Regions from separate parts of the Homo sapiens genome. Here all the other regions are linked to region 1. Evidence: fine-mapped QTL for protein levels in blood plasma. A gene starts in region 1. Each other region holds a variant in brackets. All regions are shown on one strand. Distances are from middle to middle.

Evidence for each region. PIP is the posterior inclusion probability: the model's chance that the variant is causal. The UK Biobank Pharma Proteomics Project read protein levels with antibody pairs (Olink). The fine-mapping took linkage between variants from a reference panel, not from the people measured, so its PIPs are less certain.
Region 2: its variant is fine-mapped to the plasma level of the APOC1 protein (UK Biobank, PIP above 0.99).
Region 3: its variant is fine-mapped to the plasma level of the APOC1 protein (UK Biobank, PIP above 0.99).
Region 4: its variant is fine-mapped to the plasma level of the APOC1 protein (UK Biobank, PIP above 0.99).

The regions. Positions count from the first base shown.
Region 1 is chr19:44,911,770-44,916,976 of GRCh38, forward strand. It overlaps APOC1 (apolipoprotein C1), which reads left to right and starts at 2,839. Exons shown (of 4, transcript NM_001645.5): 1 at 2,839-2,964; 2 at 3,103-3,180; 3 at 4,421-4,556. The coding sequence starts at 3,123. RefSeq lists enhancers at 875-1,634, 2,393-3,152, 3,153-3,910 and a promoter at 1,852-2,978.
Region 2 is chr19:44,924,922-44,930,128 of GRCh38, forward strand. It overlaps the pseudogene APOC1P1. Among named protein-coding and RNA genes, the nearest start is that of APOC1, 13 kb to the left of the region's middle. RefSeq lists an enhancer at 2,421-3,313. The variant C/G (reference allele first, on the strand shown) is at 2,102.
Region 3 is chr19:44,883,500-44,888,706 of GRCh38, forward strand. NECTIN2 (nectin cell adhesion molecule 2) reads left to right here. Exons shown (of 9, transcript NM_001042724.2): 7 at 2,438-2,501; 8 at 2,634-2,720; 9 at 4,611-5,207. The coding sequence ends at 4,880. Among named protein-coding and RNA genes, the nearest start is that of TOMM40, 5.2 kb to the right of the region's middle. RefSeq lists enhancers at 1,251-1,750, 2,070-2,570. The variant G/A (reference allele first, on the strand shown) is at 2,468.
Region 4 is chr19:44,837,378-44,842,584 of GRCh38, forward strand. No RefSeq gene overlaps it. Among named protein-coding and RNA genes, the nearest start is that of NECTIN2, 6.3 kb to the right of the region's middle. The variant G/A (reference allele first, on the strand shown) is at 2,945.

The DNA.
Region 1 (5,207 bases):
TTCTTTTTTGAGATGGAGTCTCACTCTGTCGCCCAGGCTGGAGTGCAGTGGCACCATCTTGGCTCACCGCAACCTCTGCCCCCCGGGTTCAAGCAATTCTCCTGCCTCAGCCTCCTGAGTAGCTAGAATTACAGGCGCACACCACCACACCAGGCTAATTTTTGTATTTTTAGTAGAAACGAGGTTTCACCACGGTGGTCAGGTTGGTCTCAAACTCCTGACATCAGGTGATCCACCCGCCTCGGCCTCCCAAAGCACTGGGATTACAGGAGTGAGCCACCATGCCTGGCCATATTTTAAACTTTTTTGTAGAGATGGGGTCTTACTATGTTGCCCAGGCTGATCTCAAACTCTTGGGCTCAAGCAGATCCTCCTGCCAAAGCTTCCCAAAGTAGTTGGATTACAGGTGTGAGCCACCACGCCCCACCAACCTATGAAGATGTCTAAGCAGACAGGGTGCCCTATCTCACCACATCCCCAGTCAGATCCAGAGGTGGGACAAGGATGGGAAGGAGGTTCCAGAACAAAGGCTGGCAGGGAGTCGTATGGGACAGGAGCTGACCCAGCAACCATCCACAGAGACATCCTGGAGCCTGGGAAGGAGAAGGACAAAGAGCCCCCTTTTTTAAATTTTTTTTATGTTTTTGAGACGGAGTCTCACTCTGTCACCCAAGCTGGAGTGCAGTGGCACAATCTTGGCTCACTGCAACCTCCACCTCATGGGTTCAAACGACTCTCCTGCCTCAGCCTCCTGAGTAGCTGGGACCACAGGTGCACACCACCATGCCTGGATAATTTTTGAATTTTTGGTAGAGACGGAGTTTCACCATGTTGGCCAGGCAGGTCTCGAACTCCTGACCTCAAGTGCTCCGCCCACCTTGGCCTCCCAAAGTTCTGGGAATACAGGCGTGAGCCACTGCAACCAGCCAGTAGCCCCCATCTTTGCCCCTCGCTGAGCCCTACTGGATGTTCTTGGTTATGCGACAGTTTCCCCATCTATTAAAGAGAAACCCCTATAGCAGAGGGGAGGATGAGGTTGGAAAAGCAGGAGCATTGTTATGCTATTCTTGTGGGGTCTGGGAAGCAGACATCTGGGTGGATGTTTGGGGGGTGCTGGGCTTAGTTGGGGAAGTAGGGGGGCCCCTGGGGCTGACAGGGACTGGAAGCTCTGAGCTGGCCAGAGGGATGTTGCAATCCTGCCAGGGTCTTGTCTATGCTGTCCTTTTCACAACCATCCCCCTACTGCCAGGCTGACACGTGGTTGCGGGGGCACAAGGCCAGCCAACCTAGAGTCTGAGGCTAGGCGGAGGACACCCTCCCCACCAGCTGCCAGGGTCACTGGCGGTCAAAGGCAGCTGGTGGGGAAGGCATTGGACTCCAGCCTTGGGGGACGGATGTAGTGATGGTGGGAAGCAGGCTTGGTGCCAGGAGGGGCGTCAGAGGGTGAATAAAAGCAGATAGAGTGTTTGGGGGAGGTAGCCAGCCAAAGGGGGTGAGGCCCGGTGGAAGGGAAGAAGGGACATACACGCAGAGCTTTGCAGCTGAGGGTTTTAATTTTTTGAGATGGGGTCTCTGTCCCACCAGGCTGGAGTGCAGTGGCACAATCACAGCTCACTGCAGCCTCGAACTCCTGGGCTCAAGCAATCTTCCTACCTCAGCCTCTTGAGTAGCTGGGACTACAGGCATGCGCCACCACGCTCGGCTAATTTTTGAACTTTTTTGTAGAGATGAGGTCTCCCTATATTGCCCAGGCTGGTCTCGAACTCCCAGGCTCAAGTGATCCTCCCTCTTCAGCTTCCCAAAGTGCTGGGATTACAGGCATGAGCCACCATGCCTGGCTAATGCAGGTGAGGTTTTTGCAGTGTCATCCAGCTAAGGCGACCCGTTCCCCTCCCAAAAAAGGGAGACTGAGAACCATGAAGTTAAGAGCCCAGAGAATATCACGGTGGTCTGGGGTGCTTCAAGGGCTGGTCTGGAATAAATTGGAGGTGGCACGCAGGGTAGGAGCGCCGGGCCAACTGGGAGACCCAGCAACATAAAGGAAAAGTTGTTGGGGCTGAGGAGGCTTGCTGAGAGAGGGGAAGTGAGGGAAAGAGGTGATCTAGGGACACGGTGTGAATGAGGGGGGGATGAGATCACAGGGTTATTACTGGGAGACCCCTGAGGGAAGATGGCCACAGGGACAGGACAAGGCTGTCTTCTTAAGGGAGGAGACCACCCCTCATATTGTCTTATGCCCAATTTCTGCCTCCAAAGAAAGAAAAAGTAAAAACTAAAAGGCAGAAATGAAATCCACAAGCAGACAGCCCGCGCCACACCCTGGGCCTGGTGGTTAAAGATTGACCCCTGACCTAATCCGTTAGGTTATCTATAGATTACAGACATTGTATAGAAAAGCACTGTGAAAATCCCTATTCTGTTTTGTTCCGATCTAATTACCGGTGCATGCAGCCCCCAGTCACGCATCCCCTGCTTGTTCAATCGATCACGACCCTCTCACGTGCACCCACTTAGAGTTGTGAGCCCTTAAAAGGAACAGGGATTGCTCACTCGGGGAGCTCGGCTCTTGAGACAGGAATCTTGCCCATTCCCCGAACGAATAAACCCCTTCCTTAACTCAGCGTCTGAGGAATTTTGTCTGCGGCTCCTCCTGCTACATTCTGAGTGGGGAAAGGGACTAAGGTGGTCTGAGGACCCCACAGAGTCAGGAAGATTGAGAGGTGAGAGTGCTGAACGGGGAGGGGCTTTGGGGCTAAGGGAAGTGCCCGGGACCCCACCTGACCCCAACGCTCACGGGACAGGGGCAGAGGAGAAAAACGTGGGTGGACAGAGGGAGGCAGGCGGTCAGGGGAAGGCTCAGGAGGAGGGAGATCAACATCAACCTGCCCCGCCCCCTCCCCAGCCTGATAAAGGTCCTGCGGGCAGGACAGGACCTCCCAACCAAGCCCTCCAGCAAGGATTCAGGTTGGTGCTGAGTGCCTGGGAGGGACACCCGCCTACACTCTGCAAGAAACTCAAAAAGGGAGATGAGGGGATCGTGGGAGGGAGGTAGGGAGGGAGGAGGGTGCCACTGATCCCCTGAACCCCTGCCTCTGCCTCCAGAGTGCCCCTCCGGCCTCGCCATGAGGCTCTTCCTGTCGCTCCCGGTCCTGGTGGTGGTTCTGTCGATCGTCTTGGAAGGTAAAAGTGGGATGGGAGAATTGCGGAGTTGGAGATTTGGAAGAGTGAAGGTGGCTACAGGCCTGGGGTCCCGGCTTAGAGGACCTCTGAGAGCTCCGGGGCCCCTTCTGGGTCGTGGTTGCCTCATCGTGGTCGGGTGGGTCTCCAGGTTCTCCCAGGCTCAGTCCCGCAGGCGCCAAATCTGCGCAGGAGAGCACTAGCAACCGATGACGTATTGAGGCCCACACCTCTGGGATTGGCTGTCCTGCTTCGACAGCCTTGAAAGTGGGTAAGCTGGGTGGGGGGCTCTGGGAGAGGTCAGTGCTGAGTAAGGCAATTCCCAGCAGCTTGAGCCCCACCAGGTCACTCCAGTATTCCTCCCCATTCTTTTTTTTTTTTTTTTTTTTTCTCTTGAGACGGAGTCTCGCTCTGTCGCCGAGGCTGGAGTGCAGTGGCGCGATCTCGGCTCACTGCAAGCTCCGCCTCCCTGGTTCACGCCATTCTCCTGCCTCAGCAGGACTACAGGCGCCCGCCACCGCGCCCGGCTAATTTTTTGTATTTTCAGTAGAGACAGGGTTTCACCGTGGTCTCGATCTCCTGACTTTGTGATCCGCCTGCCTCGACCTCCCAAAGTGCTGGGATTACAGGCGTGAGCCACCGCGTCCGGCCATTCCTCCCCATTCTAACCACATGATCCCCAAGGATCTCTATCCATCCCGGTATCCCAACCTAAGGGGGTTCCAATAACAAATTTTTGGCCGGGCAGGGTGGCTCATGCCTGTAATCCCAGCACTTTGGGAGGCCGAGGCGGGCAGATCACTTGAGGTCAGGAGTTCGAAACCAGCCTGGCCAACATGGTGAAACTTCGTCTCTACTAAAAATACAAAAAAATTAGCCAGGTGTGGAGGCACGCGCCTGTAGGCCCAGCTACTCGGGAGGCTGAGGCAGGAGAATCACTTGAACCCGGGAGGCGGAGGTTGCAGTGAGCCGAGATCATACCACTGCACTCCAGCCTGGCTGACACAGCAAGACTCCGTCTCAAAACAAAACAAAACAAAAATAGCTGGGTGTGGTGGTGCACACCTGTAATCCCAGCTACTTGGGAGGCTGAGGCAGGAGAACTGCTTGAACCCGGGAGGTGGTGGTTGCAGTAGGCCGAGATCATGCCACTGCACTCCAGCTTGGGCTACAGAGCAAGACTCCATCTCCAAAAAAAAAAAAAAAAAAACAAATTTTGAACCCCTGCCCATCTTCCTGGCAGGCCCAGCCCCAGCCCAGGGGACCCCAGACGTCTCCAGTGCCTTGGATAAGCTGAAGGAGTTTGGAAACACACTGGAGGACAAGGCTCGGGAACTCATCAGCCGCATCAAACAGAGTGAACTTTCTGCCAAGATGCGGTTAGAACCCTTCCCAGGGCACGGGAGAGCTGGGGTGTGTTTTTGGGTGGAGCCCTGGCAGATGGTCCAAGATGAACAGATTGAAAAAAAAACAAGTCCTGGAGAGGCTGACAACATCCCTCTGGTCACACAGCTAGATCTCAAGGTGCTCAGACTTCAAGGACAGTTTCCCTGACTCCCATCCAGGCCATATTTTAAAAGATGGTCTTGGGCTGGGCACGGTGGCTCATGCTTGCAATCCCAGCACTTAGGGAGGCCGAGGTGGGCTGATTGCCTGAGGTCAGGAGTTCGAGACCAGTCTGACCAACATGGTGAAACCTTGTCTCTACTAAAAATACAAAAAAATTAGGCAGGCATGGTGGCGTGCACCTGTAATCCCAGCTAGTCGGGAGGCTGAGGCAGGGGAATTGCTTGAACCAGGAAGGTGGGAGTTACAGTGAGCCAACATTGTGCCAGCCTGGGTGACAGAAGGAGACTCTGTCTCAAAAAAAAAAAAAAAAAAAAAAAAAACAAGATGGTCTTGCCCAGGTATGGTGGCTCACACCTGTAATTCCAGCACTATGGGAGGCTGAGATGGGAGGATTGCTTGAGCCCAGGAGTTCGAGACCAGCCTGACCAACATGGCGAGATCCTGTCTCCATTTAAAAAAAA
Region 2 (5,207 bases), 13 kb after region 1:
TGGTCAGCCTCAGCCTCCCAAGTAACTGGGATTACAGGCCTGTGCCACCACACCCGGCTAATTTTTTCTATTTTTGACAGGGACGGGGTTTCACCATGTTGGTCAGGCTGGTCTAGAACTCCTGACCTCAAATGATCCACCCACCTAGGCCTCCCAAAGTGCACAGATTACAGGCGTGGGCCACCGCACCTGGCCAAATTTTTAATTTTTTTCTAGAGATAGGGTCTTACTGTGTTGCCCAGGCTGGTGTCAAACTCCTGGGCTCAAGCAGATCCTCCTGCCTCAGCTTCCCAAAGTGGTGGGATTATAGGTGTGAGCCACTGCGCCCAGTCAGTAGCCCCCTCTTTGCCCCTCACTGAGCCCTACTGGATGTTCTTGGTTGTGTGACAGTTTCCCCATCTATTAAACAGAAACCCCTATAGCAGAGGGGAGGATGAGGTTGGAAAATCAGGAGCATTGTTATTCTATTCTTGTGGGATCGGGGAAGCAGACATCTGGGTGGATGTTTGGGGAATGCTGGGCTCAGTTGAGGAAGTAGGGGGGCCCCTGGGGCTTACAGGGACTGGAAGCTCTGAGCTGGCCAGAGGGATGTTGCAATCCTGCCAGGGTCTTGTCTATGCTGTCCCTTTCACAACCATCCCCCTACCGCCAGGCTGACACGTGGTTGTGGGGGCACAAGGCCAGCCGAACTAGAGTCTGAGGCTGGGCTGAGGACACCCTCCCCATCAGCTGCCAGGGTCACTGGCGGTCAAAGGCAGCTGGTGGGGAAGGAATTGGACTCCAGCCCTGGGGGACGGATGTGGTGATGGTGGGAAGCAGGCTTGGTGCCAGGAGGGGCATCAGAGGGTGAATAAGAGCAGATAGAGTGTTTGGGGGAGGTAGCCAGCCAAAGGGGGTGAGGCCCGGTGGAAGGGAAGAAGGGGCATACACTCAGAGCTTTGCAGCTGAAGGTTTTAATTTTTTGAGATGGGGTCTCACTCTGTCTCACCAGGCTGGAGTGCAGTGGCGCAATCACAGCTCACTGCAGCCTCGAACTCCTGGGCTCAAGCAATCTTCCTACCTCAGCCTCTTGAATAGCTGGGACTACAGGTGTGCGCCACCACGCTCAGCTAATTTTTGAACTTTTTTGTAGAGATGAGGTCTCCCTATATTGCCCAGGCTGGTCTCTTAACTCCTGGGCTCAAGTGATCCTCCTTCCTCAGCTTCCCAAAGCGCTGGGATTACAGGCATGAGCCACCATGCCTGGCCAATGCAGGTGAGGTTTTTAGTGTCCAGCTAAGGCGACCCCTTCCCTTTGCAAAAAAGGGAGACTGAAAATCATCAAGTTAAGAGCCCAGAGAATATCAGGGTGGTCTGGGATGTTTCAAGGGCTGGTCTGAAAGAAATTGGAGGTGGCACGCAGGGCAGGGTTGCGGGGCCAACTGGGAGGCCCCAGCAACATAAAGGAAAAGTTGTTGGGGCTGAGGAGGCTTGCTGAGAGAGGGGAAGTGAGGGAAAGAGGTGATCTAGGGACACGGTGTGAATGAGGGGGGGATGAGATCACAGGGTTATTACTGGGAGACCCCTGAGGGAAGATGGCCACAGGGACAGGACGAGGCTGTCCTCTGAGTGGGGAAAGGAGCTATGGTAGTCTGAGGACCCCCCAGAGTCAGGGAGATTGGGAGGTGAGGGTGCTGAATGGTAAAGGGCTTCGGAGCTAAGGGAAATGGTCAGGACCCCACCTGACCCCAACGCCCACGGGCCAGGGGCAGAGGAGAAAAACCTGGGTGGGCAGAAGGAGGCAATCTTCCAGGGGAAGGCTCAGGAGGAGGGAGATCAACATCAACCTGCCCCGCCCCCTCCCCAGCCTGATAAAGGTCCTGCGGGCAGGACAGGACCTCCCAACCAAGCCCTCCAGCAAGGATTCAGGTTGTTGAGTGCTTGGGAGGGACACCCGCCTCCACTCTGCAAGAACTCATAAAGGGAGATGAGGGGATCGTGGGAGGGAGGGAGGAGGGTGCCACTGATCCCCTGAACCCCTGCCTCCGCCTCCAGGGTGCCCCTCCGGCCTCGCCATGAGGCTCTTCCTGTCGCTCCCGGTCCTGGTGGTGGTTCTGTCGAT[C/G]GTCTTGGAAGGTAAAAGTGGGATGGGAGAATTGCGGAGTTGGAGATTTGGAAGAGTGAAGGTGGCTACAGGCCTGGGGTCCCGGCTTAGAGGACCTCTGAGAGCTCTGGGGCCCCTTCTTGGTCGTGGTTGCCCCATTGTGGTCGAGTGGGTCTCCAGGTTCGCCCAGGCTCAGTCCGGCAGGCGCCAAATCTGCCCAGGAGAGCCCTAGTAACCGATGACGTATGGATCTCCACACCTCTGGGATTGGCTGTCCTCCTTTTATAGCCTTGAAAGTGGGTGATGGGGCGATGGGCTGTGGGAGGAGGTCAGTGCTGAGTAAGGCAATTCCCAGCGGCTTGAGCCCCACGCGGTCACTTCAGTATCCTCCCCATTCTAACCACATGATCCCCAAGGATCTCCTTATCTATCCCCGGGATCCCACCCCAAGGGGGTTCCAATAACAAATTTTTGGTGGGGCGTGGCGGCTAATGCCTGTAATCCCAGCACTTTGGGAGGCCGAGGCGGGCAGATCACTTGAGGTCAGGAGTTCGAAACCAGCCTGGCCTACATGGTGAAACCCCATCTCTACTAAAAATACAAAACAGCCAGGCGTTGTGGTGCGCGCTTGGCTACTTGGGAGGCTGAGACAGGAGAACTGCTTGAACCTAGGAGGCGGAGGTTGCAGTAAGCCGAGATCGCACCATTTGACACAGCAAGTCTCCGTCTCAAAACTACAACAACAACAACAACAACAACCAAATTTTGCACCCCTGCCTCATCTTCCTGGCAGGCCCAGCCCCAGCCTAGGGGGCTCCAGAAGTCTCCAACCCCTTTGATGGCCTGGAGGAGTTAGGAAAGACCCTGGAGGACTACACTCGGGAATTCATCAACCGCATCACACAGAGTGAACTTCCTGCCAAGATGTGGTTAGAACCCTTCCCAGGGCACGGGAGGGCTGGGGTGTGTTTGTGTGGAGCCCTGGAGGATGTCCAAGATGAACAGATTGAAAAAAAAAACAAGTCCCAGAGAGGCTGACAGCATCCTTCTGGTCACACAGCTAGATCTCAAGGATCTCAGACGTCAGGGACAGTTTCCCGGACTCCCATCCAGGCCACATTTTAAAAGATGGTCTTGGGCTGGGCGCCGTGGCTCACACCTATAATCCTAACACTTTGGGAGGCCTAGGCGGGCGGATTGCCTGAGATCAGGAGTTCAAGACCAGCCTGGCCAACATGGTGAAACCCTGTCTCTACTAAAAGTACAAAAAATTAGCCTGACATGGGGGTGTGCACCTGTAATCCCAGCTACTCGGGAGGCTGAGGCAGGGGAATTGCTTGCACCAGTAAGGTGGGGGTTACAGTGAGCCAAGATTGCACCACTGCACTCCAGCCTGGGCAACAAAGCAACATTCCGTCACAAAAGAAAAAAAAAAAAGATGGTTTTGCTTAGGTACGGTGGCTCACACCTGTAATCCCAGCACTGTGGGAGGATTGCTGGAGCCTAGGAGTTTGAGACCAGCCTGGCTAACATGGCGAGATCCTGTCTCTATTTTTTTTTTTTTTTTTTTGAGACAGAGTCTCGCTCTGTTGCCCAGGCTGGAGTGCAGTGGCGCCATCTCGGCTCACTGCAACCTCTGCCTCCCCAGTTCAAGCAATTCTCTGCCTCAGTCTCCTGAGTAGCTAGGATTACAGGCGCCCACCACCACGCCCGGCTAATTTTTTTGTATTTTTAGTAGAGATGGGGTTTCACCATCTTGGCCAAGCTGGTCTTGAACTCCTGACCTTGTGATCCACCCGCCTCAGCCTCCCAAAGTGCTGGGATTACAGGTGTGAGCCACCATGCCCGGTGATCCTGTCTCTATTTAAAAAACAAAACAAAACAAAACAAAACAAAAAGCATACAAGCCAGCCCCGGTGCGATAGCTCATGCCTGTAATCCCAGCACTTTGGGAGGCTGAGTCGGGCAGATTACCTGAGATCGGGGGTTCGAGGCCAAGTTGGGCAGATCACCTGAGGTTGGGAGTTTGAGACCAGCCTGACCAACATGGAGAAACTCCGTCTCTATTAAAAATACAAAATTAGTCAGGCATGGTGGTGCATGCCTCTATTCCCAGCTACTTGGGAGGCTGAGGCAGGAGAATCACTTGAACCTGGGAGGCGGAGGTTGCAGTGAGCTGAGATAATGCCATTGCACTCCAGCCTGGGCAATAAGAGCGAATCCACGTCTCAAAAAAAAAAAAAAAAATTGAAAAAAAAAAAGATGGTCTTGTGGGGTAATGAAGGACACAAGCTTGGTGGGACCTGAGTCCCCAGGCTGGCATAGAGCCCCTTACTCCCTGTGTGATCTTAAGAGAGAGGCATTACTGTGAGCCTCAGTTTCCTTTCCTGTGAAATGGTGGTTCTGTGGGGAAGTAAAGCAGAAGGCCTATAGGGTGTCTGGCACATTGTAAATGCTCAGTACATCTTCAAATCCACACTTGCTCCCTTTGGCAAGTTAGAGAGTCATTCGTTCCTCAACACATATTTATTGAGCATCTGCTAAGTGCTAGAAACTGTTTCAATGTGGGGAATAAAACAGTGAAGAATATGCCGAGCGCGGTGGCTCACACCTGTAATCCCAGCACTTTGGAAGGCTGAGGTGAGTGGATCACTTGAGGTCAGGAGTTTGAGAACCCCATCTCTACTAGAAATACAAAAAATTACCCAGGCGTGATGGCACACACCTGTAGTCCCAGCTACTTCGGAGACGGAGGCAAGAGGATCACTTGAGCCCAGGAGGTTGAGGCTGCAGTGAGCTATGTTTGTGCCACTGCATTCCAGCCTGGGTAACAGAATGAGACCCTGTCTCATCCAAAAAAAAAAGAAAGAAAGAAAGAAAGAAAGAAGGAAGGGAGGGAGGGAGGGAGGGAAAATCTAGTCAGGCCTAAACTTAGAAAGATTGTTTGGAGGCCAGGTGCAGTGGCTCATGCCTGTAATCCCAGCACTTTGGCAGGCTGAGGCGGGCAGATCACCTGAGGTCAGGAGTTTGAGACCAGCCTGACCAACAAGGAGAAACCCTGTCTCTTCTAAAAAAAAAATACAAAAAATTAGCCAGGCATGGTGGTGCATGCCTGTAATCCCAGCTA
Region 3 (5,207 bases), 28 kb before region 1:
CCTGACCTCAAGTGATCCACCCGCCTCGGCCTCCCAAAGTGCTAAGATCACAAGCATGAGCCACTGCGCCCAGCCAATGCCAGCACTTTGGAAGGCCAAGGCTCTTGTTGCTAGTGGTTCGAGACCAGACTGAACATCAAAGTGAGACACCATCTCTAAAAAAATAAAACAAACAAAATTAGCCAGGCAAAGTGGTGCACACCTGTGGTCCAGCTCCTCAGGAGGCTGGGGTGGGAGGTCACTTGAGCCCAGGAGCTCAAGTCTGCAATGAGCTATGATCATGCCACTGCACTCTAGCCCAGGTGACAGAGCAAGACCCTGTATCTTAAAAAATAAAAGACTGGGCACGGTGCCTCACACCTGTAATCCCAGCACTTTGGGAAGCCAACCCAAGTAGATAACTTGAGCTCAGGAGTTCGAGACCAGCCTGGGCAACATGGCGAAACCTGTCTACAAAAAAAATACAAAAATTACCCAGACCTGGTAGCCCATGCCTGTAGTCCCAGCTACTTGGGTGGGCTGAGGTGGGGGTGGGGGCATGTGGAGGCTGCAGTGAGCTATGATCACACCACTGTACTCCAGTCTGGCCAACAGAGTGAGACCTTGTAAAAAAAAAAAAAGAAAAGAAAAATAGCTCAGAGCAGTCTGAGGTATGCGAGCTATGCAAAATTTGTTTTTTTGAGACAGGATCTCACTCTGTCCCTCAGGCTAGAGTTCAGTGGTATAATCTGAGCTCACTGCAACCTTCGCCTCCTGAGCTCAACCAATCTTCCTACCGCAGCCTCCCAAGTAAATGGGACCACGTACCACCACACCTAGCTAGTTTTTGTATTTTTGTAGAGACAGGGTTTTGCCATGTTGCCCAGGCTGGTCTTGAACTCCTGACCTCAGGTGATCCACCCACCTCAGCCTCCCAAAGTGCTCGGATTACAGGCGTGAGCCACCATGCCCAGCCTGGAATCTGTATTTACCACAAGCTCTCTAAGTTTTTCTGATGCACAGGAAGGTCTGTTACACCACTGTCTTAATCATCTAGTTAGTTCAAACCAATAACTTGCTGCTGATCTCCTCTGTGTGCAGCTCCATGCTGTGACCCACTGTGTCCGAGACGGCCTGGAGCTCACAATATGGAGGAGGAGACAAAACTGTCTCCAGATAGTGATGGTGTAGCATGACCAGTGATGGGATAGGGCAGTTGAGCAAGCTCTGAGAAGCCAGAGGGGGCATCTGACCCAGGCTGGATGGTCAGGTAGGGCTTCCTGGAAGAGGGGACATCTGAGCTGACAGAATGCATCGTAAGCACCTGTCATTACTGTATGCTTTGGTCTGTGGGTGTGTAGAATGAGGGACAGGAACTTTAACCTAATTTGAGGGACAGGAAGGCACTTCATTTATTCATTCATTCTTTTCACAAATATTTACTGAACTCCTCATAGTGGATTCTGGAGACACCTTGCTGACGACCCAGATCTTTCTTTTTTTTCTTTTCTTTTCTTTTCTTTTTTTTTCTTTTTGAGGTGGAGTTTCGCTCTTTTTTCCCAGGCTGGAGTGCAATGGCGCGATCTCGGCTCACCACAACCTCCACCTCCCGGGTTCAAGCAATTCTCCTGCCTCAGCCTCCTGAGTAGCTGGGATTACAGGCATGCGCCACCACGCCCGGCTAATTTTGTATTTTTAGTAGGGACAGGGTTTCTCCATGTTGGTCAGGCTGGTCTCACACTCCTGACCTCAGGTGATCTGCCCACCTCGGCCTCCCAAAGTGCTGGGATTACAGGCGTGAGCCACCACGCCTGGCTGATCTTTCTTTCTTTTTTTTTTTTTTTTTTTTTTAATTTGAGATGGCATCTCACTCTATTGCACAGGCTGGAGTGGAGTGATCTCATCTCACTGCAACCTCTGCCTCCCGAGTTCAAGCGATTCTTGTGCCTCAGCCTCCTGAGTAGCTGGGATTACAGGCGTGCACCATCATGCCCAGCTAATTTTTGTATTTTTTGGGGAGATGGCATTTCACCATGTTGGCCAGGCTGGTCTCGAACTGCTGACCTCAGATGATCCGCCCGCCTCAGCCTCCCAAAGTGCTGGGATTACAGGCGTGAGCCACTGCCCCCAGCCCAACACAGATCTTTTTTCCCTCCCAGAGCTCACAGTGGGGCATGGTAATTATAAATAACATTTCAAGTACAAATTCAGTAAGTGCCCTGAGGGGGAAGTACAGCTAGGTATGTCCGTGTAACAGGAATTCCTGATCCACTGGGGAAACCTGAAGGCTTCCGGGAAAAAGAGGAATTCATGGAATGAATAAAAACTCTTACTCCAGGCAAGAAAAGGGGGCAGGGGAAAGGGAGACCCAGGTAGAGGGAACAGCATGTGCCATAACCCCGGAGTCAGAGGGATGCCTGGGTCTTAATCTCCACTTGTCCTACCTCCTACCCCACAGCCTGGAGGGACCTCCCTCCTACAAGCCACC[G/A]ACCCCAAAAGCGAAGCTGGAGGCACAGGAGATGGTGAGCACTTTCCCTGGAGCCCAAGCTATCCCCACCTCCACACCCACCCCAGGGCTGGGAGGGGCCTGGCAGGGAGAAGCTGGCTGGGTGGTGGGGGCAGTTCCTGACCTCCCCGCCCCTCTCCCACTACAGCCCTCCCAGCTCTTCACTCTGGGGGCCTCGGAGCACAGCCCACTCAAGACCCCCTACTTTGATGCTGGCGCCTCATGCACTGAGCAGGTAGGAGCTCATGGGAAGACAAAGGTGGGTTGGGGGTCTGGGTTGAAGGGCCAGGGGTCAGGCCTGGCAAAAGAGGTCAAAGACTAAAGGTCATAACTCAAGGTCAAGGGTGTGTCCCCGGTTGGTGCTTAATGCATTGAGATGTGTTCAGGATTCCATGGGGGAGGTCAGGGGTGAAAAGGCCCAAGGTCACAAGGTTAGAATTTAAAGTCACTTGGGGGCTGGGCACGGTGGCTCACGCCTATAATCCCAGCACTTTGGGAGGCCAAGGCAGGAGGATCACTTGGGGTCAGGAGTTCGAGACCAGCCTGTGCAACATGGTGAAACCCCGTCTCTACTCAAAACACAAAAAATTAGTTGGGTGTGGTGGTGCGAGCCTGTAATCTTAGCTACCCGGGGCGCTGAGGAGGAAGAATCGCCTGAACCCAGGAGGCCGAGGTTACAGTGAGCTAAGATCACACCACTGCACTCCAGCCTGGGCAACAGAGCAAGATTCCGTCTCAAAAAAATAAATAAAACCAAATAAATAAAATCACCTGGGCCGGGCATGGTGGCTCTGGTCTATAATCCCAGTACTTTGGGAGGCCAAGGTAGCTGGACCCCTTGAGCCTAGGAGCTCGAGACCAGCGTGGGCAACATGGGCTACCCAGCAACATTTTGCGTCTACAAAAATACTGAATTTACCTGGATGTGGTGGCAAATGCCTGTAGGCTGAGGTGGGCGGATTGCTTAAGCCCAGGTGGTTGGGGCTGTGCCACTACACTCCAGCCTGGGCATCAGGGTGAGACCCTATCTCAAAAAAAAAAAAAAAGAGGAAAAGTCATTAGGTCAATGAAAATTGATTATCTGGTCAGGCATGGTGGCTCACACCTGTAATCCCAGCACTTTGGGAGGCTGAGACGGGCAGATCACCTGACGTCAGGAGTTCCAGACCACCCTGGCTAACAAGGTGAAACCCCTTCTCTACTAAAAACAAAAATAAGCCAGGCATGGGTGACATGCTCCTGTAATCCCAGCTATTCAGGAGGCTGAAGCAGGAGAATCGCTTGGACCCAGGAGGCAGAAGTTGCAATGAGCTGAGACCACGCCACTGCACTCCAGCCTAGGCAACAGAGCAAGACTCCGTCTCAAAAAAGAAAAAGGCCGGGTGCGGTTGCTCACGCCTGTAATCCCAGCACTTTGGGAGGCCAAGGCAGGTGGATCACCTGAGGTCAGGAGTTCCAAGACCAGCCTGGCCAACATGGTGAAACCCTGTCTCTACTAAAAATTACAAAAATTAGCTGGGCGTGGTGGCGGGCGCCTGTAATCCCAGCTACTTGGGAGGCTGAGGCAGGAGAATCGCTTGGACCCGGGAGGCAGAGGTTGCAGTGAGCCCAGATTGCACCATTGCACAACAGCCTGGGAGACAAGAGCAAAACTCCGTCTCAACAACAAAAAAAAACAGAATGAAAGAAAATTGATTATCTACATTTGCTGGATACTGTGCCTGAAGCTGGGACAAGACAAATCAAGTCACTCCCCTCAGTGGTCTACTGGAGGTCAGGGGTCAGACACTGAGGTTGCGCTCAAGGTTCAAAGGACTGTTTAGAGCCCAAGGTTAAGTATTTGAGGTCAAGACTGAGGTGAAAGGTTCATGGGGAAAGATTTGCAGAGATCGAGTGTCAAAAGTGAGTCCCAGGATTAACAGGGTGAGTTGCACGAGCTGGGCTTTGGGTTAAGGAAGGGCTGAATGAATGTCCCAGTGCAATATGGCCTCAGGGGACAAGGAGTGAGGTGGCATCTTGTTGGCATGGGGAGAGAGCGGTCAGGATTTTGGGGTCAAGAGCAGATTGGTAATCTGTGTCGTGCGTAGGAAGTGATCTTGAGTTCCTGTCCTCTCTCTACCTCCAGGAAATGCCTCGATACCATGAGCTGCCCACCTTGGAAGAACGGTCAGGACCCTTGCACCCTGGAGCCACAAGCCTGGGGTCCCCCATCCCGGTGCCTCCAGGGCCACCTGCTGTGGAAGACGTTTCCCTGGATCTAGAGGATGAGGAGGGGGAGGAGGAGGAAGAGTATCTGGACAAGATCAACCCCATCTATGATGCTCTGTCCTATAGCAGCCCCTCTGATTCCTACCAGGGCAAAGGCTTTGTCATGTCCCGGGCCATGTATGTGTGAGCTGCCATGCGCCTGGCGTCTCACATCTCACCTGTTGATCCCTTAGCTTTCTTGCCAAGGATCTAGTGCCCCCTGACCTCTGGCCAGGCCACTGTCAGTTAACACATATGCATTCCATTTGTGATGTCTACCTTGGTGGCTCCACTATGACCCCTAACCCATGAGCCCAGAGAAATTCACCGTGATAATGGAATCCTGGCAACCTTATCTCATGAGGCAGGAGGTGGGGAAGGTGCTTCTGCACAACCTCTGATCCCAAGGACTCCTCTCCCAGACTGTGACCTTAGACCATACCTCTCACCCCCCAATGCCTCGACTCCCCCAAAA
Region 4 (5,207 bases), 74 kb before region 1:
AGCCAAGATCACGCCACTGCACTCCAGCCTGGGCAACAGGGCGAGACTCCGTCTCAAAACAACAACAAAAATAAACATGAGAAGCTAGATGACTGTAGCTGGCTGATCACCTGCTTGGCAGCCACAGCTTTTACCTGTGTCTTGGGCTTGGGACTCATGGAGCAGAGTGGGTGTCGCCCACAGGACGCATGAATGCTTGGAGCTTACTGGATCCCTGCATCCCTCCCATCTGTGTTCAGCTCACATTCTTAGTATGTCTAACAGGTCTCATGAGTTGCTTTTTTTTTTTTTTTGAGACGGAGTCTTGCTCAGTTGCCCAGGCTGGAGTGCAGTGGCGCGATCTCAGCTCACTGCAACCTCCGCCTCCCGGGTTCAACTGATTCTCCTGCCTCAGCCTTCCGAGTAGCTGGGATTACCGGCGGGTGCCACCACGCCTGGCTAATTTTTTGTATTTTTAGTAGAGACAAGATTTCACCGTGTTCGCCAGGATGGTCTCGATCTCCTGACCTCATGATCCGCCTGCCTCAGCCTCCCAAAGTGCTGGGATTACAGGTGTGAGCCACCACGCCCGGCTTGAGTTGCTTCTTAATATCCATCCTTCATTTCACCTGTCTGTGTCCTTATTTATAGGGCTCTTGTTCCCTATATAACAGAATTGAAAATTCCCTTTAAAAAAATACAGCAAATGCACACAGAGGATCAGAGGATGGAGGGGAGAATTTGATGAGATAACCAGGGAAGTATTTAGTACAAAGCCTGGCACAGAGTCCATGTGCAGTACATGTTAATTATTGTGATTATCTAAGGAAAAATAAAGAGACACAGAGAAAAGCAAAAAGGTTGCCTTAGGCCAGGTGCGGTGGCTCACACCTGTAATCCCAGCACTTTGGGAGGCCGAGGCAGGCAGATCACCTGAAGTCATGAGTTCGAGACCAGCCTGGCCAACATGGTGAAACCTTGTCTCTACAAAAAAAAAAAGACAAAAATTAGCTGGGCATGGTGGCACGCGCCTGTAATCCCAGCTACTCAGGAGGCTGAGACACAAGGATCACTTGAACCCAGGAGGCGGAGGTGGCAGCGAGCCGAGATCACACCACTGCACTCCAGCCTGGGTGACAGGGCGACACTCTGTCTCAAAAAAAAAAAAATAAAGGCCAGGTGCGGTGGCTCACGCCTGTAATCCCAGAACTTTGGGAGGCCGAGGCAGGCAGATCACCTGAGGTGAGGGGTTCGAGACCAGCCTGGCAAACATGATTTAGTAGAAACCCCGTCTCTACTAAAAATACAAAAATTAGCTGGGCGTGGTGGCAGGCACCTGTAATCCCAGCTACTCGGGAGGCTCAGGCAGGAGAATCGCTTGAACCCGGGAGGCGGAGGTTGCAGTGAGCCGAGATCACACCATTGTACGCTAGCCTGGGGGGACAAGAGCGAGACTTCGTCTCAAAAATAAATAAATAAATAAACAAATAGGCTGGGCGCAGTGGCTCACGCCTGTAATCCCAACACTTTGGGAGGCCAGGCGGGCGGATCACGAGGTCAGGAGATCGAGACCATCCTGGCTAACACGGTGAAACCCTGTCTCTACTAAAAATACAAAATATTAGCCAGCATGGTGGCAGACGCCTGTAGTCCCAGCTACTCGGGAGGCTGAGGCAGGAGAATGGCGTGAACCCGGGAGGCGGAGCTTGCAGTGAGCCGAGATCGCGCCACTGCACTCTAGCCTGGGCAACAGAGCGAGACTCCATCTCAAAAGTAAAATAAAATATAATAAAATAAAATAAATAAAATACAAACACTCCCTTAGTCCAGGGCAGGGACCAGATACAGAGATACCACTCTAAAGGCAGACATTGGTGTTGGGGTTTGGTGAGTTGGATGGCGAGTGAACAGATGGCTAGTGGGAAGGGAAAGAGAAGAGGAAAGGGTTCTCCATCCAGTACCTGGTCCCCAAGTTAATGAGTGGAGGATCCCAGCCTGCCCCACCAGGAGGGAATACATTTGCATAAGGTCCCTCATCTGCATGGCATCCCAGGGAATTTGCATAGAGATGGCAGCCTGGGGCCACATCAGTATGACCCCTCCTCCCAAGGGTTGAAACTCCAGCCTACATTACAAAGGCCTAGGGCAATAGGAAAGTGGGAGGGGTGAACCTCAGGATCTGGGGCTCCAGGAAGTAAAGAGAAGTTGGTAGTAAACTACCCTTGCTCTTTAACCTTCTGTGGTTCCCAGAGCATGAGCCGCCCTTCAGCTGGCATTCTGGACCTTCTAAGATACTGACCCTCACATCCCCTGCTCCCGCTGTCACCACCCTCCTACCTGGAATGCCCTTCCCCATATCCCGTGCTGTGACAAAGCTTGCCTATTCTTCAAAGCCTGGACATCCTGAAGAATTCTGAAAGCTTTCACCACCAGCCCCTCCTTGCCCTGCCCTTGGAAATTTACAAAGCTCTGTGCATCTCCCAGACATGTACAGATTTTTTGGGGTATATAGTTTATTAGTAAGGTTATATTTGATTGCAAATGACTATATATATATATATATATATATATATATATATATATATATATACACACACACACACACACACACACACACACACACATAGTCTCATACATATATATATATATATAGTCTATACATATATATATAGTCTCATATATATATATATGTATACCAGGAGTCATGTCTCATGCTTGTAATCCCAGCAGTTTGGGAGGCCAAGGCAGGAAAATTGCTTGAGCCTAGGAGTTCAAGACCAGCCTGAGCAACCTAGTGAGAGCCTGTCTCTACAAAAAAGTCAAAAGATGAGTCTGGCAGGCCGAGCACGGTGGCTCACGACTGTAATCCCAGCACTTTGGGAGGCAGAGGAGGGCAGACCACTTTAGGTCAGGAGTTCAAGACCAGCCTGGTAATATTGTGAAACCCCGTCTCTAATAAAACTGC[G/A]AACATAGCCAGGCGTCGTGGCCCAAACCTGTAGTCCCAGCTACTTGGGAGGCTGAGGCAGGAGAATCACTTGAACCCAGGGGGCAGAGGTTGCAGTGAGCCAAAATCACACCACTGCATTCCAGCCTGGGCAACAGACTGACACTCCGTATCAGAAAAAAAAAAAAAAAAAAAAAGATTGGCCGGGTGCGGTGGCTCACGCCTGTAATCCCAGCACTTTGGGAGTCCGAGGCGGGCAGATCACAAGGTCAGGAGATTGAGACCATCCTGGCTAACAAGGTGAAACCCCATCTCTACTAAAAATACAAGAAATTAGCTGGGCATGGTGGCGGGCGCCTGTAGTCCCAGCTACTCGGGAGGCTGAGGCAGGAGAACGGCGTGAACCCAGGAGGCAGAGCTTGCAGTGAGCCAAGATCGCTCCACTGCACTCCAGCCTGGGCAACAGAGCAAGACTCCGTTTCAAAAAAAAAAAAAAAGATTATTCTGGCACAGTGGCGAATGCCTATAGTCCCAGCCACTTGGGAGGCTGAAGTGGGAGGATTGCTTGAGCCTGAGAGGTGGAAGCTTCAATGAGCCATGATTGTACCACTGCACTCCAGTCTGGCCAACAGAGCATGACCCTGTCTCAGAATAAGAGCCGGGTATGGTGGCTCACGTTTGTGATTCCAGCACTCTGGGAGGCCGAGGCAGGCAAATTGCTTGAGCCCAAGAGTTCAAGACCAGCCTCGGCAACAACCCAAAAACCCATCTCTACAAAAAAATAGAAAAATTAGCCAAGCATAGTGGCACATGCCTGTAGTCCCAGCTACTCGGGAAGTTGACATGGAAGGATCCCGAGCCAGGGAGGTCATGGCTGCAGTGAGCCATGGTAATGTCACCACACTCCAGCCTGAGCGACAGAGTGAGACCCTGTCTTAATTAAAAAAAAAAAAAAAAGACTGAGGGGAGGAAGTGGTTAGGGGAGCTGCTGCTGCTGCTAAAAGAAAGGAAAGGTTGCCAGGCAGGTAAAATACTTGGCATCAGCTCCATAGCTCCGTCAGGAAGCCTTTGCCCCTACCTATGCCCCTACCTTCTAGTGGTTATGGCTCTTCAGTGAAGTGCCACCTCTGGGACTCCTTGACACTAAAAGTCAACTCCCCAGGCGGGCGTGGAACCCACCCAGTCATTTGTCACCAAACTTGGTGCTCAGCCTCATGCTTGTGACCCAAGGGTGTGAAACTCCAGCCTACACCTCTGGGGCATTTTTTTCTTTCTTTTTTTTTTTTTCCTTTTTTTTTTGGCAGAGCCTTGCTGTCACCCAGGCTGGAGTGCAGTGGCACAATCTTGGCTCACTGCAACCTCCACCTCCCGGGTTCAAGCGATTCTCCGGCTTCAGTCTCCCAAGTAGCTGGGATTATAGGCACCCGCCACCACATCCTGCTAATTTTTGTATTTTCAGTAGAGACAGGGTTTCACCACGTAGGCCAAGCTGGTCTCAAACTCCTGACCTCAGGTGATCCATCTGTCTCGGCCTCCCAAAGTACTGGGATTACAGGCTTGAGCCACCATGGCCAGCCTCCTGGGGCTTTCTTCCTGGGCTCATCCCTGCTCACAAAGAACAGCCAGGAGAGAGCTAAGCCCACTCATTCGTAGGCCAGGAGAAAGGAGGTGCTAGAGGCCTTCCTAGAAGAAGACTTCCTGGGGACTGGTTCTTTTGTTCAATGGATAAACGGGGGTCCCAGGATTTTGCAAAGCAAGTTAGTAGCAAGGCTGGCACTAAAACCCAGAGGTCCTGGTCCACAAACCTGGCCTCAGATTGGGGAGAGAAGGTCAGAGAGATCTAAAGCACATTTATTGCCAGGCGCGATGGCTCACACCTGTAATCCCAGCACTTTGGGAGGCTGAGGTGAGAGGATCACTTGAGGGCAGGAGTTCAAGACCAGCCTGGGCAACAAAGCGAGAATCAAATTCTACAAAACATTTAAAAATGCACCGAGCAGCCGGGCACAGTGGCTCACGCCTGTAATCCCAGCACTTTGGGAGGCCGAGGCAGGTGGAGCACGAGGTCAGGAGATCGAGACCATCCTGGCTAAGACCATGAAACCTCGTCTCTACTAAAAATACAAAAAATCAGCTGGGCGTGGTGGCAGGCACCTGTAGTCCCAGCTACTCGAGAGGCTGAGGCAGGAGAATGGCATGAACCTGGGAGGCGGAGCTTGCACTGAGCCAAGATCGCGCCACTGCACTCCAGCCTGGGCGACAGAGCAGAGACTGTCTCAAAAAA